Linked DNA regions of Homo sapiens. The protein of the gene in region 1 purifies or fractionates together with the protein of each later gene. This does not show direct contact. Each region holds a gene or a part of one and is shown in the gene's direction. Other genes may lie near its edges. The genes, in order: SLC67A2, ACADSB and TUBA8.

Region 1 (3,041 bases):
TGCAAACACAAGCATTCTGTTGATCAACGGAAATATTTTGATGTGCCATTTCTTGTCTAAACAAGTTTCATATACAGCACCGAGGGGGCCACGAGAGGCAGAGGCCCAGACAGAAGGTGAACATAGCCTTGCAGGGAGACATATGCCAGGCAGGATGACCATTGGGATTGCATCAAGTATTAATCAGTTACTTAAGGGCTTCCTGTCAGACAGTTGAAGTTCACATTCCTTTTACTTTTCTTAATTAGTCCACTAGGATGGTATGCCTGTTTTCAACTTAACACATGCATACTTGTAAATATTTTAGTATGCTACAGTAATTTGTCATATCTTTAATATTTATTGTTTGTAAAGCAGTAAACATTTCTGTATTTTAGAAGTCATGGAGTAAAATCAAATATTTATGATAAATAATTGGAAGTATGTTTTAGTTTGAAGATTGTCCTTTTTCCTATCTTGCTGCAAGGAAAAATGGACTTCTGATTAGGTTTTACAATTGTGAACTTTTATGTAAATGTTAAGTGCTTTCGAGGAGACCAAACTATTATTAATATATAAAATGGCCTTGCCCTTAAGGAGCAAATTAAATCTCATGGAGATTAGACTCAAAAGGCAATAAATAATCGAGGGTTTATGCAATGAAATAGAATTTCAGAAGAGTTTGGATCTCAAAGATTGTCCTTCACTCTCAGAAACAGGCAAGTTTCTTAAAAGCCCTTATAGTCGTGTTTTTATTTTAAAAATCGTAGCACTTTATTTTTGAAGTTTAAAAAGCCCATAAACTTAATGAGTCTTTATAATCAGACACATGGAAATATAGAAAACCAAAGACTGATCTTAGAATATAGAGTAGAGAGACATGTTTGTTATTCTCCACTAGTGACTTTAGTATTTTGTTATGTGATGTTTTTTAGGTGCACCTTTTCTCATGACTCCTTTTACTTTATCTAATGTCTTCCTCTTTAAAGTGTGACCCAGAGACCAGTAGCATCAGCATCACCTGAGACCTGTGAACACTGAAGCTCCAGCTCAGACATGTTGGGGACCATTTTAATAAGATACCTAGCTGATTTTTTGCACAGCAAACTTTGAAAACCCCTGGTCTAAGGGGTAGTATTTGTATCACTTATGGAATATAATCTCAGGGAAATTAAATCTGCTCAATTGACATTTGTGGTGTTTCATTTTTTAAATTCTCTTGAGTAACTTCTGTAGCCCTTTCCAGTGTGTCAGGTTGAGCCACATGAAGTTGCTATTTTTGTAAGTCAAAAATATCTTCATAGGGTGCAACTCACTATTCTATGGAATCTTATTTTAGGAGTATTGAACCTTCCTGAAATGTCTTTGAAGGAAGTGTCACCCTTTCCAACACTCTGCCAGCCATAACTGCTTGGGAACAGGTCTCCAGGATTTGGGTTCCATAGAGCAGAAGGTAGGCCTCTGCCCTCATGTCTAGAGGGATGAATAACATTCTGAAAAGGTACAGGGTGTGTCTAGTCACAGGAGTCACCTGCAAGGCTCCAAACTCAGGCTGGATGGCCCCTTGGGGAGTGAATTCTGCAAGAGTTGCACCTGGGGCCAACAGAAGGAGCTGGAATCACTGATTCTGTATCCTGGCTACATGCCTTAGACCACAGGAACCAGACTCTGAAGCACCACAGATGTTTCTGTGAACATCTGGAGTTGGGAATCACTGAGTTAGATCAAGAATGGATTCGGCTGCCATGCTCGGGTTGAGATTGTATTGACGGATGAAGGGGAATGACGGAAGAATTCCTGCGGTAAAGTGCTGTGAAGACACTCCTGTTTTAGAAAGAGCTCTCTAGCCGCAGCAAGGAGGATTAACTGGAGGCCCAAGGAGTAGTCTGGACTTTGGGGCAGTAACTTTAGGGGGGCCCTGAGGGAGAGCTGGTCGCGAGGACAGGGACAGCAGGCAGAGGTTGTGGCCCACAGGGCAATCGCAGGAGAGGTTGTGAATAATTCCCAGGTGATGAGTGTGCAGCTTTGAGGAATTTCAAAGGGTTGCTTGGCGTCTTTTCCTGAAGACACTTCTATAAGGTATTTAGAAATCTATCAGGAGTGAGAATCAGTCCAGTCAGAAAATTTTAGGCATTTGGGCAACTGCATTCAGAAAACAGCTATTTATTTGGAATGCATAATAAAAGCCATGAGACTGAATCTCCATGCCTCTTTGCCCCCTAGTAGCCTTCAAGAAGTCTCTAAAACAGGGTTACCACAGATTTAGCCAGGATGATGTGTAGCAGCTTTTCTTGGAACAGGTTGATGGATTAAAATAACTTTTTTTCAGCTCTAATGTTTTTTTCTTGAATTTGCCAGTCACATGATAATTTTCTTCAAAAATAAAACTTTATAATTGTAATGAGGAACTGTCATTTATTCTTATAAGTTGTATTTTTAGAAGTCACTGATGTGTCTTGCTACATATTTCAATTCAGGATCCAGAAGTGCTTTGAAAAATGTCATCTCCAGTATGCTAGAACACATCTTAATATTAAAAACAAGGCTTTGGCTTTTAAAACCATTATGCAGATACCAAATATATATGTAATCTGACATTTATACTGAAGGCCAGTAAGTAGAGGACAGTTGATCCTTGAACAACACAGGGGTTAGGAGTGCCAAGCCCCCAAAACGGTAGAAAATTTGAGTGTAACTTTTGACTCTCTAAAAATTTACTACTAATAGCTTACTGTTGACATGAAGCCCTACCAACAATATTAATAGTCGACTGACATGTATTTTGTGTGTTACATATATACTGTATTTTTACAATGAAGTAAGCTAGAGAAAAAATGTTAAGAAAAAGAAAAATAATATTATTAAGTGGAAATGGAATCATAAGGGTCTTCATCCTTGCCACCTTCATTTTGAGTAGGCTGAGGGGGAGGAGGAGAAGAAGGGATTGATCTTGCTGTCTTAGGGGTGGCAGAGATGGAAGAAAATCCCCGTTTAAGTGGACCTGTATAGTTCAACTCTGTGTTGCTGAAGGGTCAACTGTACTTTTAAGGTAACATCTCACA
Region 2 (3,661 bases), on another chromosome or scaffold:
CACTAAGTTAACTGTTGTTTCTTTCATTGGCAAACATTTAGTATGGACCTAATCACCCTCTAAAATTTCAGGGTGGTAGTAATTGGTGCTTCAAATATTCTTCATTACTTTGTAGCTAACATTTTTTAATGCCTGGAAGCCATATGAAAAATCAAAATTTTCTTAACTCAAGCAAATAAAGAATATATTCAAAGTTTTGCTGTGCCAGGATTTCATTTAAGCTCAATTTTGATCAAAAGAGAGTTGAAATAATTATTAAATATAACAGTCAAGTTTTTAAACCTAACTTTGTTATACTTTACTATTTAAATCTTGAAAATCATGAAGACTTACATGAACTTTGAAGTTTTTCTAGGAAAAGAGGATTTAACAATACTTATAGTGTCACATTTCATTTTAGATTACTCATTTTAAAGTATTTAAAAGACGTGAATGTAAATTTCCTTTGGGGTGTATTTTGAGTCTGTCAGTGTTGTGTATCTAGGCAGGACTTTGAGGTTGAGGTGCTTGCTTTTTTGAAATCATAATTCTCTAACTTGGGCCTGACTGTTACAGGGCCTCCAACACCAAGTGGCTCACGTGGCCACCCAGCTGGAAGCTGCAAGATTACTAACATACAATGCTGCTAGGCTTTTAGAAGCTGGAAAGCCATTCATAAAAGAAGCGTCAATGGCCAAATACTATGCATCAGAGGTAAAAAAAAAAAAAAAAAAAAAAAAGGAAAAAGTAATTCAGCCTTTTTTTTTTCAGATATATACTTATTAACATTTTCTCTTGGGAATGTTGATTGTACTTTGGTTGTTTTTCAAGTTAAGATAACATGGACTTTTATTTCTTATAATAGAAAAGCAAAAAAGGAAAACTGCCATAGGAAAACACTTGAATTCTGTGAGGTCTCAATGTTTCGTTGAGTAGCCCAGCTCAGCTAGACCACCCATCTCAAACTGCCATAGGAAAACCTTCAGTTCTGTGAGGTCTCCATGTTTCGTGAGTAGCCCAGCTCAGATAGACCACCCATCTCAAATCCATGGCTGAGCCTCCTCTGAATGAGGGTGTCATGCCTATGGTGTCAAGTTCGGGCAAAGTGAATGCCGTGGAAGATGATGGGTCCATCATGTGAACAAATCAGATTTAAAACACCAAGAAAAGATTGTCTAAAACTTTCTACTCATACATTTGCTTTCTAGAGCTAACACATTAGACTGAGGCTAGAGAATTTAGCCAAATCACTGGGCAGCTGTTTCGTAGCCTCAGCAGTATCTTATTCATTCCATGGCTTTAAATTCTCATTTAACCTCTCCAGCCCATAAATTAAATATCCTACCTCAACTTCTTTCTGAATTCCAGACTAACATGTCCAACTTCTGCTTCACCATCAGAACCTGAGCGTCATCTTGGCACCCTGCTTTCCCTCACCCCCCACATTGAGTCCAGCATCATTTCCTATGATTCTACCCCTAAAAGATTCCTTAAATGGTGTGTTTGTCTCCCTCTCCACTGCCACCTCTGTACTTCAGTCACCTCACTGCCCTCCTGGTCCCTGGTGCTTCCTCCCATCCAGCCTCTCTCCTTTTTCAAAGTGGCAGTGAGGCCATGTCACCTTCCAGCTTTAACCCTTCAGTGGCTTCTCACAACAAATGGAGCTCTATCTGTACTAGATTCCAATTGCTGCTATAACAAATTACCAAAAAGTCGGGGACCTAAAACAACGCAGTTTCATTTTCTGTCACTTCTAGAGGTCAGAAATCTGAAATGGGTCTCACTGGAATACAGGGGCTGCCTTTCTGTGGTTCTGGCAGACAGTTGTTTCCAGCTTCTAGGGGCTGCTCACATTCCTTGACTCGTAGCCCCTTCCTCCATCTTCAAAGCCAACAATGTGGCATGTTCAGATCTCTCTCTGACTCTGCTTCCTGTCTCCATGGTCACGTCACCTTCCATGACTAACTCTCCTGCCTCCTCCTTTTCCTTATAAGGATCCCTGTGATTATATCACAGCCACCCAGATAATTCAGGGTAATCTCTCCATCTCGTGTCCTTACCCACATCTGCAGAGTCCCTATTGCCATGGAAGGCAGCATATTCACAGCTCTGAGGGCTAGGATGTGGACGTCCTTGAGGGGCCATTCTGCAGGGTCTCTCGCTCCTCCATTCTCTTTTCACATTTCACCCCGATCCCAGCCCACTGGCTGTCTCAGGGGCTGGAAGTTGAAGAGCTCATTCTCCCCTTGGAGGATTTCGACGTGTTGGTCCTCAGCTTGAAATGTCCCTTAGCTCGTCCGTTAGGCCCCCAGTAAACATTTCCTGAATAAATGATATCTCTCAGCATGCAGATTCATGTGAACAATGCTCTAATTTCTTAAGAAAATGGGGATTCTGTGAATTAATAGGATGTTTTACAGAAATGGTATGGAGAATGGGACTGAAGAGACAATGCTAGTTTAGAAGATAACTTTAGTCCTTCCAGTGCCACTAACAGTAAATCCATGTTGCTGAAAATGTTACCCAGAAGTGTTTATCATGTATAAGTTATGTGGTTTCAGTGTGTGATTTGCACTTGCTTTTGGTAGATTGCAGGACAAACAACGAGTAAATGTATCGAGTGGATGGGGGGAGTAGGCTACACCAAAGATTACCCTGTGGAGAAATACTTCCGAGATGCAAAGATTGGTAAATAGATTTTTTTTTTTTACATTTTATTTTGTTTTATTTGCCTCTGTAGGTATTTTGGCTGTTTTATTTGTCGTTTTTTTCCTAGGTAAAAGCAATTTTAATTTCTTCAGTATATGTTTGGTGGCTCTATTTATGTGGCTGGATTTTTTTCTTACCTCGTCCTTCAAAAAAAATTGTTCTATATTTTTAAAAAATATCAAATTGCCTTTTTAAATGCCTCAACAGGCTTTTTAGTAAAACTGCCACAAATAACAGTCTGAGCTTATGCATCAATTGTTGAAGAATCAAAATCTTCAACTTTTGTTTACACCTTTAGTCAGTTTAATACTGATCCTGGACATCGAGAAACCAAATGGAAAATTGTCATCTCTTAGTCAAAATTACTGTGAAATAGTACCATATTCAGGGGACATGAAGTGATGTGACTAGTAACTGTTTTATAGCAAGCGCAGAGGTGATGTTTATAGAGCTATTTCTTGTCTTAACCATGCGCCAACTCCTCATTGTTCCTTCTGCTTCCTTTTGCTTAAGGTACGATATATGAAGGAGCTTCCAACATCCAGTTGAACACCATTGCAAAGCATATCGATGCAGAATACTGACGTCTATAGGAGTGGGACCCCTCCCTGGTGTCACTGCTGTAAAATTTTAAACGGTTGTGTCTTGTTGGGAGTAAGTGCCTTGCGTGGGAATAAACTTCCACAGCATTCGAATATTTTAATGAAGCCCTTAGTCAGGGTCCTGGTGTTGGCCTTTTTGGTTTTCTCTTTTCAGGCTGTTTAACTTAGGCACAGGAGATCCACTTTTAAACTTGGGAAATAAGCACCTGTATTTTTTTCCAAAACTGTTTTTAAAGCTGTATACGCATACATATATATATTTTTACTCTGTCTTACTCTGTCACCCAGGCTAGAGTGCAGTGGCGCGATCTCAGCTCACTGCAGCCTTGACCTCCTGGGTTCCAGTGATTCTCATGCCTCATCCTCCCAAG
Region 3 (2,373 bases), on another chromosome or scaffold:
TTACAGGCGTGAGCCACTGTGCCCGGACTTTTTTTTTTTTTTTTTTTTTGTGAAACGGAGTGTCGCTCTGTCACCAAGGCTGGAGTGCAGTGGCGCGATCTAGGCTCACTGCAAGCTCCACCTCCTGGGTTCACGCCATTCTCCTGCCTCAGCCTCCCGAGTAACTGGGACTACAGGCGCCTGCTACCACACCCGGCTAATTTTTTGTATTTTTAGTAGAGACGGGGTTTCACCGTGTTAGCCAGGATGGTCTTGATCTCCTAACCTTGTGATCTGCCCGTCTCGGCTGGGATTACAGGCAGGAGCCACCGCGCCTGGCCTCCAACCTAAAGTTAGTTTTAATGGATATTTTACACTTCTTTGTACAGCATGATTTTGTGGCCATTTTAATTTTAGAGTTAACCAAATTATTCCAGTTGCCAGAGGAGTATGATGCCTCTCTCTAACAAAAAGCTGTGTTCTCCCAATTTATTTTGAAAACTTAAAATATCTATCCTGCACATCTTAATCAATTTGGAGTAATAAGATACTTTTATAGTTGTTCTATGATTGCTATTTTCCATTGCCATTAACCAGGAGTAAGCAAAAACCAGCAAGCCGTGTGGCTGGTGGTAACCAAGTGCCCGCAGTCTGGAAAATGCCAGGCTCAGAGAGTCAGTGGGGAGATACAAAATAGCGAGGGTAGACCCTGGGGCCCCAGGACCAGGAATGCTGAATGGTAGAAGTCACCCCTCTGAGCTGGACCGGCAGGCAAGCAGCCTGGCTGTGCACATGAACAGCTCAGCCACTCCACCCATGGTCTTTTGTCAGATTCTGCCATCATAACAGCTACCACATTCACATTAACTACTGCCCTGTAGTCAGGATTTCTTTTTTTATTTTTTATTGTATTTTTCCCCTGAGATGGAGTCTTGCTCTGTTGCCCGGGCTGGAGTGCAGTGGTGCAATCTTGGCTCACTGCAAACTTTGCCTCCCGGGTTCAAGTGATTCTCCTGCCTTAGCCTCCCAGGTAGCTGGGATTACAGGCATGCACCACCACGCCTGGCTAATTTTTGTATTTTTAGTAGAGATGGGGTTTCACCATGTTGGCCAGGCTGGTCTCGAACTCCTGACCTCAGGTGATCCACCTGCCTCAGCCTCTCAAAGCATTGGGATTACAGGCGTGAGCCACCAAGCCTGGCCCCTAGTCATGCTTTCAATCATTCAGAGGTTTTACTGGTACCTATTGTGTGTCAGGGTTTGTCTCAGTTGCTGGAGGTGAAGAGATGAGCATGCCTCAGTTTTCTTGGCGGGAGTTACAAGTGTGAGGCACCAGCTGCGTGCTGGCCTCATAGCTGCCCTGCATGGGTCTGAGGCTTTGACCTGGCTGTTCTGCTGAGTGAGGAGTGTAGCATTCCTTTTCACTGCTATCCTTCTAGCTACATATATAATTTCCCCCCAAGACTATGCCTATTTTTTATGTGACAGTTCTAATCATCCTGGCAAAACCAGTCAAGGTCTTCCAAAAAATGAAATTCTTTTTTCTTTTTCAAATGGAAACAAACAACCAGCTAGTAGGAGAATGAATGGGGAAAAAAGAGAATGAATGAGAGACATGGTGGGTGATGGGGAAATTAACAAAGCGGAAATGTCCCCTCATTCTCTCTCCTTAAAGCAGAAGCTCTGGAGTTATGTCCTGAAGGATCATTATGGTAGCATTAGCATAAGCTAAGAAAAGTATGTTCCCTGGAGAGGATGCTGCTAAACTTCATCTTCTTGCATTCTCTCCAACAGTACTTGTCCCCACTTGACTCAGGTCAAGAGATGTTAGCACTTAGAGGAGAACAGGTTGGCCCAGGCACAAGGTTTATGGCAGTCGGCTCAGTTCTAGCAATGTATGTGATGTGGCCAAATTCATATACATTGCCTTTCCCTTCCCCACTTTGCCCCTCTCCCAGTATCACCTCCACCTCCAAGATGCCACCTGTGCCTAAGAGGAATGACGGCTGCTGTGGGTCCAGTGGCTGCCTGGCTACCCATGTTGCCACACAGCTGGCTGCCATTCCCACACCAGCCCCTCAGGAGGATGTGCATTTTAAAGCTATGGATTTAAGAGACTGGCGATTAAAATGTGGTGGTCTCAGTGGGAGAGGTGGCTGAGGACATCACTATAGTTCTCATAAGTAATGTCACGGTTTGCCACATTAGACTTGTCCCAGTTTCCCATGGTTCCTGGGGTTGGCTTTGGTTTGGGACGTGTGTTGGGAAGAAGAGAGATTTCCAGGATAGCAGCACCACTGTAAGACGGGTCTGGGCTGAGCCTGGGAGACCTGCCATGCTGCCAGAACTTGGCAAGACCTTCAACAACCTTCTTGGATTGGAGACCCTGCTTTT

Evidence for each region.
Region 2: the proteins of SLC67A2 (region 1) and ACADSB purify together in Homo sapiens (affinity purification with mass spectrometry; one large-scale study listed by BioGRID and IntAct). This does not show direct contact.
Region 3: the proteins of SLC67A2 (region 1) and TUBA8 purify together in Homo sapiens (affinity purification with mass spectrometry; one large-scale study listed by BioGRID and IntAct). This does not show direct contact.

Annotation. Positions count from the first base shown.
Region 1 is NC_000002.12:102,713,969-102,717,009, reverse strand, and holds the end of SLC67A2 (major facilitator superfamily domain-containing protein 9), read left to right. Parts: 3' UTR 1-2,380; downstream 2,381-3,041.
Region 2 is NC_000010.11:123,050,494-123,054,154, forward strand, and holds part of ACADSB (short/branched chain specific acyl-CoA dehydrogenase, mitochondrial isoform 1 precursor), read left to right. Parts: intron 1-555; coding exon 556-693; intron 694-2,567; coding exon 2,568-2,667; intron 2,668-3,201; coding exon 3,202-3,272; 3' UTR 3,273-3,661. UniProt on the Homo sapiens protein: Short and branched chain specific acyl-CoA dehydrogenase that catalyzes the removal of one hydrogen from C-2 and C-3 of the fatty acyl-CoA thioester, resulting in the formation of trans-2-enoyl-CoA.
Region 3 is NC_000022.11:18,127,665-18,130,037, forward strand, and holds part of TUBA8 (tubulin alpha-8 chain), read left to right. Parts: intron 1-2,373.